Regions from separate parts of the Homo sapiens genome. Here region 1 is linked to region 2. Evidence: fine-mapped expression QTL. A gene starts in region 2. The other region holds a variant in brackets. All regions are shown on one strand. Distances are from middle to middle.

The links. PIP is the estimated chance that this variant, and not a neighbour inherited with it, causes the effect. A credible set is the group of variants that fine-mapping cannot tell apart.
Region 1: its variant is the best candidate, but not a certain one, in a credible set for the expression of SEMA5A in fibroblasts (GTEx, PIP 0.67).

What each region holds. Positions count from the first base shown.
Region 1 is chr5:9,438,192-9,442,574 of GRCh38, forward strand. The region is part of intron 1 of SEMA5A (semaphorin 5A); the gene reads right to left. Among named protein-coding and RNA genes, the nearest start is that of SEMA5A-AS1, 71 kb to the right of the region's middle. The variant T/G (reference allele first, on the strand shown) is at 2,617.
Region 2 is chr5:9,544,001-9,548,383 of GRCh38, forward strand. It overlaps SEMA5A (semaphorin 5A), which reads right to left and starts at 2,075. Exons shown (of 23, transcript NM_003966.3): 1 at 1,584-2,075. It overlaps SNHG18 (small nucleolar RNA host gene 18), which reads left to right and starts at 2,200. Exons shown (of 3, transcript NR_045196.2): 1 at 2,200-2,530. RefSeq lists a silencer at 2,009-2,198.

The DNA.
Region 1 (4,383 bases), 110 kb before region 2:
TAAATTAAGATTCATTATATGAATTTATCCTTTTCATGACTCATTCCACTTTTTGGAACACATGGTACCTTATACAATTCAAGAACAGGAGACAAAGGCAGTAGCACAAACTCTGCTAGAAATTTGAGTTTGTATTTTTATTTACATACTGATTTATTAGGTGCACAATTATGAGGCTTTATAGGAAAAGGAATGATGCATCGTGAAAAACAAGCCACTTTACCAAAACCAAGTAAACCTGTCCAATCTCGTCATTCAATTTCATATACAAAAATTCTGAAACCTTGATGTTGTCATTGGATGGAAAGATGACCACGAAACGCCAGCCTCCCTAGAAACATGTATGCCAGAGGCTGAAAATATAGGTGACTTTCCATCTATGATCCATATGAGAAATGTGTTCATCACCAGTGAAGGATGCCTGTGACTTCAAATACTGCATTTCAGGGCTCATGCTTTTTTCTGTTCTCTTCATTCATCTGGTTTTTCTCTACACTTCCCAGGTGGCAGCTTCTGGCTGCTATAAATGTGAAACACCCTGACATTCTTCCTCGCCACCCTGAAGAAGGGAAAATGGGAGAAAGAACTTCCCAGAACATTCTGGCTGTCCCTCTAGGCAGTGATTCCCACACGGTCAGCTTCAGTCATGATCCGAGGCCATCTGCCTGCAGAAAATGAACTGAACGACAGCAGCTGGAAATTTATAAAATGTTATACCTGCTGAAGTGCCATTTTGGAAGCCCTAGGGTTCAGAGGCCAGGGAACAGGTCAAGGTGGCACTGCCTCTCTATGAGTCTCCCTTCCTCCAGGACGGGCCTTTGGTATGTTCATGGGAAGCAAGGGGGTGACCCAGGGCAACACACTGGGACATGCCTGCCTGAGACGCCCCAGCAGCCCAGGCACCCTCATATCGTGCAGCACGGCCAATCCTCCAGTCCCAGCAGAGTCCTCAAAAGTCCGTGACATCATCCTTTGGACAGGAGAAGGTGCAGATGCAAATCCTTGAAGCCAAAAGAGGAGCCAGGGAAGCACACTCAGTCTCAGAAATATTCCTCAGAGTGGCCAATTTCTTTTACACAACATCACTAATATCACCTTTGGGCGTGGCAACAAAATATGTTAGTTGAAACTCCTTTATTAAATGGCATGTTTGAATACACAAGCATCCTCTCTCCAGTCCTAAAATCTATTTTACAACAATTATTACTAAAATGTCCTTGTAGTTGTTTAGATCTGAGTTGAAATGTAAGTAATAAAGTTTGACAGATCCTCTGGTTACCGCCATGAATAGCTGGCAATTTCTGTAAGTTCCCATGTCTCAGAACTACATTAAAAACAGGGCTAATAGGTCTCCTGCCTCCCCCAGTGAGGTCACAAATGAGCTGATGTGAACCCTCAGCTGGACAGCAAAACCACACCTGCAGAATATGGGTCAGTCTCTTAAATGAAAGAGACTGGGGCCAAAAAGATCATTGCAAGAATTCACAATCAGTAACACAACCAGAGAGCAAATACTGCAGGAAGAAGACATCCCTGCCGAATCCAGCATGGACAGCCCACAGCCTGGACCGCCAGACAGTCCTGGTGCAACCAACAGACTCCAAAACCCAGCCCCTTCCTTGTGGAAAAGCAATACCCACAGGACAGAGCTCTCTTGGCTTGGGGGAAAACACAGCTTCCTACAGAGTTTGATGTCTAAACAGGAAATCAGTCTCAGCAGCAGGATTCAAGGGTGTCCACCCGAAAGGGTTGTTACTGTGCCTGTGTTTACATAAATAGTGAAAAAGATATTTTAACAGCCTGGGGGCTTGTCAGCCAAGTGAGCCATGTTGGGACTTTCTGCTCCTGAGGGTCAGCCCTTGCCTGGGGAAGACAGGGTGCTCACCAACACACCCATGTGTGCCTGGGAACGTGCACTCAGGAACAGAAATGATAGTGACAAAGCAGAGGCCTTGAGTTGGAGCCAAGCTAGAGGAACAGACAATGATTCTTGCAGGTCCAGAAGCAGAGCCCCCGTGTCCTCTCCCAGCAAGGTCATAAATTAGCCAATGCATTAATCATAAATCACTGACATATTTTCTAGAAAACTGAGAAGAAAGCTGAAAGGCAAAGAAACTACAAAGCCCCAGAGGCTCACTCCAGACTGGAAGTTGGAAAATTTTTAAGCGACAGTTAACTACCCATTTAATAAGAAACTGCTTATTTTTTATAAACATATAAATTTCTCTATTTGACTCAATTCCATATTATCCTTATTCTTTTCTCTTTTAGCTTAGCTTTAACCTTGGTGCCAACAACCTCTGAAATCCTCTGAGTCATAATTTTCAGAGTTCTGCCTCTTAAAAAATGCCACCATGAACATATATGTGCAGAACTATCTTGACGACACTTTTGATTTACAAACAGTAACTCTTTCCCAGAAGTTTTGCCCTGTGGCCACCTACACTCTTCAAATTGTCTCTAGATGGAACTACATGAAGAAGATTGAATACCAATTATAACTTACTAAGTGCTCATCAGCACATGACTTTCTGCTAAAATATGCAACCTTCTCCCTGCCCAACTTACTCAGAATGAGGTAAGATGTAGACTTAAGCATTATTTTGGAGACCAAAG[T/G]TGAGCTGAGTGGTAGCCTTTATCCTGCAGATACATGGCAGAAATTAACATGCCAGGCCAGTCTTATGAGCTGAATTTAGAAACCGTACAACAGTAAGATTACACTGGAAATAAAAATGGACAAGACCACCTGGCATCAGAAAGTTTAGTGGAGTGATGAAAAGAAACCGTAAAAGATACAGGTTCAAGAAACCTAAGAACTGCTGGGCCAGCATTTCCCAAAGGCAAGACTTAGACCAGTGCCATGGCATTTAATTGACAGGCCTCTCATCATCAGTCCCTCCGTTAATCACCATGCACAGCACAGCCCCATGGCCACACATGGTGGATGCTTAGAAGACAAAACAAGAACCTATTACACTCTCAGGAGCTGTCTATATGATTTTTCTGCTATGTAGTTCAGTATATACTATGAATTGGAGGAAAGAGAAGTTACTTATGGGCAGAAGAGTCAAGGAAAAGATTTCTGAAAATGGGAAATGTGATGTGGGCTCTAAGGGATGAGGAGGAGATAAGGAGGATATTAAAAGACACAGTGAAGTATGTTTTAGTGGGTGCATTGCAGGTGAAACAAACAGTAGATGAGGGAGGAACAGCTGAAAGTCATCAGGTATAAGAGAAGAGCCATTTACGCCAGCACCATGGTGAGTTAAAGCATGAGTTCCTGGTACCATCCCTGGAGTTGGGTGGAAACCCCACCACGGAGCCCACCAAGATAAGAGTTTGCAGGAGTGCAAACTGAATGAGATAGGTGAAAAAAAGCAATTCCACAAAGGTAAAAATCTGGACTGCAATGCCATAAGAATCACAGACAGAAATCTGGCCTCATGCTCAAGTCCCTGGAGGAAGACAAGGAAGTAAACAGGAGGGTGGATTCCAGGTGGCAGGCCAAGGAGCAGGGAGGGTGGCATCAGGAGTGTGTGGAGGCAGCCAGCATCGGCTAGCAGCAGCATGTGCCACGATGACTACCTGCAAGATCACTCACATGCAAGAGCATGGAGAGCTCAAAAGAGGCACTCCAGACAGCTAACAGATGGGAAAAGTAGATGACACACAGATTGTAGGGAATGTTAACATGAGAAAGAGATGAGACTTCATCCAAAGGAAGGCAGAGTCACTGAAGGTTCAGTGGGATGTCAGGATGAGCAAACTTTGGGAGGGTGAATATGGCAGCTCTGCAGAGGATGCACAAGACAAGAAGGGGAGAAGCTGGGGTAAAAAGCCGCCACCAGAGAACTCCAGGTATGAGGAGAATTGCAGTGAAGGATGAACATGGCCCTTGCCAAGCAAAGGACTTGCCTTTGCCAAGTTCCTGGGAAGTCACCTCTAAGACCTTAGAATGTCCTGCCTGATGAGAGACTTTGTTTTGGGGGGGCTTTAGGCCACACAGATAGTCTAGGCTAACCATGTGGTTAATGGCTGAGGGCTTGGGCCTCTCTGGATTAGTCTGGCCATGTCTATGTGGTCAATTCTCAATAAAAACTCAGGACACCAAGGCTCAGGTGAAGTCGCCTGGTTGGCAACACCCTATGCATGTTGTCATACATCCTTGTGGGGGAAGAAGCACTGTCCACGTGTCTCCACTGGAAAGAGACCATCAGAAGCTCGTGACTAGCCTCTCCTGGACTCCAGCTATGCACCTTTTCCACAGCTGGAGTGTAAAGGGTACTACTGTACCCTTTGACTGAGATCAACCATAATCACTAATACAACAGGTTTTACACATTCTTAGAGTTCTTCATGTAAATCATTGATCCTGAGGGTGCC
Region 2 (4,383 bases):
CATTACACTCTCTAAAATAATGAAACTGGCATTAATTAGCAACAAATTCAGCAATCCTAATTAGGTATTGAAAAATCTTTCTTATTAAAGCCTGGTTTTGTGTTTCTGTCTCCTTATGAACAGACTACCTCTATAATTAATAACATATCTGCTGATTCCAAACTCAGCCATTATGACAGAGCTCTTCTCGGTAAGCTAGACGTAAAACTTGTCTTTCTTCAAAACAAACCAGAACAATCATTTGTGACTCCTGATGTGTTAACTAAAGTACCCCTAAAAAGCAGAACGGTATTAAACAAAGCTCACGTTATCTTCCCTCAATTTCGATTTCTTTCTGAGTAAATGTAACAGTCACAAGGAAGGCAGATGCCCAGACAAGGAAGACTTTACAGCGATCTTTTTCTCTGGAAGAGACCTTTCTAGTTAGAGCATTTATGTCTGGCCACCACCTTTCCTGTCCCCTCTCCTAGCAAGGCTGACAGCTCTCTATAGCCACCAGATCAGCTCCCCCAACCCCCGGCCCCCAAAATGAAATTATTGCAAGATCTGCCTGGTTCTGCTGTTTGTTGCCTGGGACTCCCGCCCACTCGCCCAGGACCCAGCAACTGCCTGTGGCGCCTCGTCCTCCGAGCGCTCGCTCGCAGCGCCCCCTGCCGGGAATCCCGAGGACGCCGCAGGCGCAGGAAAGTTAAATCCCAACTCCGGCCGCGGCATCCTGGTACAAAGCAAGCAAAGGGCGAGGAGGTGAACGCGCTTCCCGCCAAAGCCAGGGGAACAGGGATGTGACCGCTCCAAGCCAGGCACCGGCCGCCGCGGGGAGCGAGCCGGGGGAATCACTCCTCCACGACCGTTCCCACGCACATCTTGGGAGAAACCATTCCCTCTGGAGCCCGATCTGCCCGAAACCCTGGGGTCTGAAACCCTGAGCCGCGGTGTGCAAAATCCGTGGAGCAGCGGAGGGATGCCTGGTGAAAGGGGCTCGCCTAGCTGCAGCGCACCTGGCTGGTGGTTCCCCAGGCCTCTGCATCCCCCGCCTTAGTGTCTTTCATTAACCAAGGCGCTTGGCGGAGTTGAGCCCAAGTCCCATTGCCTCCCGGTTCCCCTGTAAGGAAAGCAGGAAAACCTGCCCAAGCCGGTGGGGCTGCGAGGTGGCCGCTCCCGAACCGCCAAGTCCCGACCTCCGTGTCCCCTGCCCCCGGCTCGCGGCAGTGCGAGCCTGGAGGCGCGCCGGGGGCGGGCACAGACCAGTGTGCGCACCTTTCCGGGTGTTGGGCAGGGGTCCCGTCTCGCCCACCGCGACACTCCGGCTCCTTACCTCTCCATGCTCAGACCTCGGCACAGGCGGGTACACAAACTTCCAGCCCGTGCACTAGCTCAACTGTGGGCGCCCCCGGACTGACGGTCGTCCTAATCCTGTACGCGCAACCCCCGCCCAGGTGCCTGCTGATGGATCCCACCCGAGATCGGCACCACCCACCAGCCGACCGCTGCAGTCCCCGGGTCCCGGCCAGCGGCGCGGCGCGGCGCGGCGCGGTCAGGGGCTCCTGCCAAGGCCACGCAGGAATCGGGCGGGGGTCGCTCACCAGGTGCGAGGAGCGCTGGTGCCAGTCATCCAGCGCCTGGGGGCCAGAGCGGCTCCGAGGATCCTCTTCAGCACCTGGCTAGGGAAGTGGAGGCAGCAGCTGCAGCCGCCCCCTGCCACTTCCCCAGAGCCGCCCCCTACTCGCTGAGTTCCAGAATGGGGGCACCGGCTTGGGGGCCACGAGCACGGTCCCCGAGCGCGCGGCCAACCGGTGGGTGGGCAGGTTCGCGCCCAGCAGAGACGACCCTCGAGGTGGCAAAGTTGGGTGTCCAAGCCAGCTCCGCGGGGCAGTCCTGGGTGGGAGAAGGGAGCGTCCCGGGATGAGCGACACTGGCCGGGCCGCCCCTGCACGGGGAAGGTGGAGGGCCGGGGCTGCAGCGGGCCAAGGGCCGCGGCTGGCCTGAGGCTGCGAAGCCCACCCGCGGCGGGAAAGCAGCGCTCGGGAGCGGGCTCAGGGAGAGCAGCCGCCACCGGCGCCGCCTTCCCGGCAAGTAGATCGGCGCGGGGCGAGCGGGCGCGGAGAGCGCGGGGCGGAGAGCGCTGGGCGGGGAGCGGGGGACAGCCTGGGCCCACCCCCGCCCCGCCCCGCCCCTGCCCCGCCCCCGCCGCCGCGCCGCCTCCTCCTCCTCCTCCTCCCCGCCGGGGTGAAACTCGAGCGCCCCACCCGCGCCTGACCTCCCCGAGCCCCTCCCCGGGCCCCGCCCCTTCCCGGTACAGGACCCCCACCTTCGCTCCTGGGAGCCCCGCTGCACCCCAGGAGTTCCATTCCAGCCTCCCCAGTGCGAGTGCGGCCGAGCGCTGACTTTTGGGGGCTCCCTCCCCCGTCTCACTGGGTCCCTCTGCGGCTCCCCCGCCCGCTGTCCCGGTTCAGACGTGGCTGCACCCCGGAGGGGGGCGCCGGCCGAGACCTGAGACGTGGCGCTCCCTCTCTGCCGGCCTCGGCTTCAGGTACGTGCGGTTCCCTCGGCTAAATCTGGCCCGGGGGATGGGGGGCAGGGGCCGTCTGGTCCTCCGGAACTCGAACTTTGTGATTTTGTTCTTTCTGTGTGACATCCTCATCCGTTCTGAGGGAGAAACTCCTTAAAGAAGACGAGAGAGTCAGTCGTTGCGGGTTCTTGGAGGAGCACTTTGGGGGTGAGACTCCCGGCTAGTTCGGGTCGATTTCAGCGGGATTAAGTCAAGGAAATGAACAAATCTGACGAATCAGGGAGGCCAGAGAAGGCGTCCCCAGGTAGCCACGCTGAGCGTTAAGAGAGAAGTCCCGTATGGTCAAAGTCATTCGTCCAATTCTGTGTCAATTATTCCTTGTTGCACTTTTGCAGGATCCTTGGGCCTTACTAAGTACTCAGGTGAAAAGTTGATAATTGGGAAGCAAGTAAAGTACCTTTGAAGACGTGTATAATTGGACACTTTGTTGCAGTTCTTCAGTTTCTGGAGGAGGCGGTGGGGGGGGAGAGGGAGGGGGTCAGCCTCGCGAAAAGAGCAAATGGTAAAGTTATAGGAGTATAAGGCATAAAACTTGGGTTGGGAGTCCTGACTGGCCTTGAGTGGCCCTTTCCCACTGGATGGGGGTGCGGGACAGTATCTCTGGGCCCTTTTTACTCAGTCTGCGCCTCAGAGGGAGGCTTGAAGGTCCCCTGCATGAGGAAATGTGTGAATTGCCCCCTCCTGACCGCAGTGAGGTAGGGACCCCCGCAAGGACCCACGTTCACACCAGCGCCCTTCCAGCCAGTGGTGGGGTATGGATGGGCCTCGCTGGTCCTGGGCATGGTCCGGTGCGTCCATAAGGGTTCCATTGAGCTCATCCATAAAACAAAGAAGCTATTGCAGGCTGCAGGGTGTCATAGCTCGCACAGTAGCCATGCAGACCTAAGAGGACAATGGAAATACAAATTGCTATCGATGTGTCTTTATTTTCTAGAACTTTTTTTTAAAATAAAAGAATTAAGTGAAAGCAATTCCGAAGGTTTCTATGAAAGCCCAGCCCATCCCCAAATGCCCAGTCTCTGGCACGGGTGATCTGGCTGTCTTGGGTACTCAGGCCTTACTGGGATTTCCTTTAAGACCTCTGGGAGGAAGTGTCAGTAGCTGGGCAGGCCTTCTTGGCAAGCATTCCTCCCTGGGTTGTGGCGGGGGCTCCCGGCCTGCTGTGTGGCAGCTGCAGGCTCCTGGGGACCTGAAGGAAAAGCTTAACCGTTCTCCCTTCCCTTGCTTGGCACTTAGAGCACTAGTTCCATTCCAGACATTCCGATTATCTTGCCTACGTGGCACAGAGGCCTAGGAGCCTCCCTGGGAGGAAGAGGCAGGCCAAGGTCTTGCCTGGCTGCTTCTAGGGGGAAAGATGTAGGGAGGAAGCTGCCTTATGCTTGGATCTGCAGCCTTTGCCTGGACCTGTGGAGCCTACGTGGCCAGGGTGAGGGAGACAGAAATTAGAACCCAATGTATTCAGCTAATCCTCTTCTTGCCTCTGAACATTGCCGTTAATACTTGAAAAGAAAAAAAAAAAGCAAAAAAACTCTTGGCATATAGAGCTAAGCAGTGGGAAGAAGATAGCTTTCTAAACCATGACCCAATAGGTCTGATAACATAACATTTAACTGGATAAATTACATAATTTTGTATATATGTAGGGGGGAGTTGAATTCAGTTTTGCTGTTTACAGGCTGCACCAATGCATTGTTAAAAGATGTATATTTTAGTGATAATTGTGATTAATTACAAAATAATTGCTAATAAGCAGGTAAATAAACCAAATTATAATTTAGAGTGCATCCTTTGTTTAAAGTGAAATGGATCTAAAT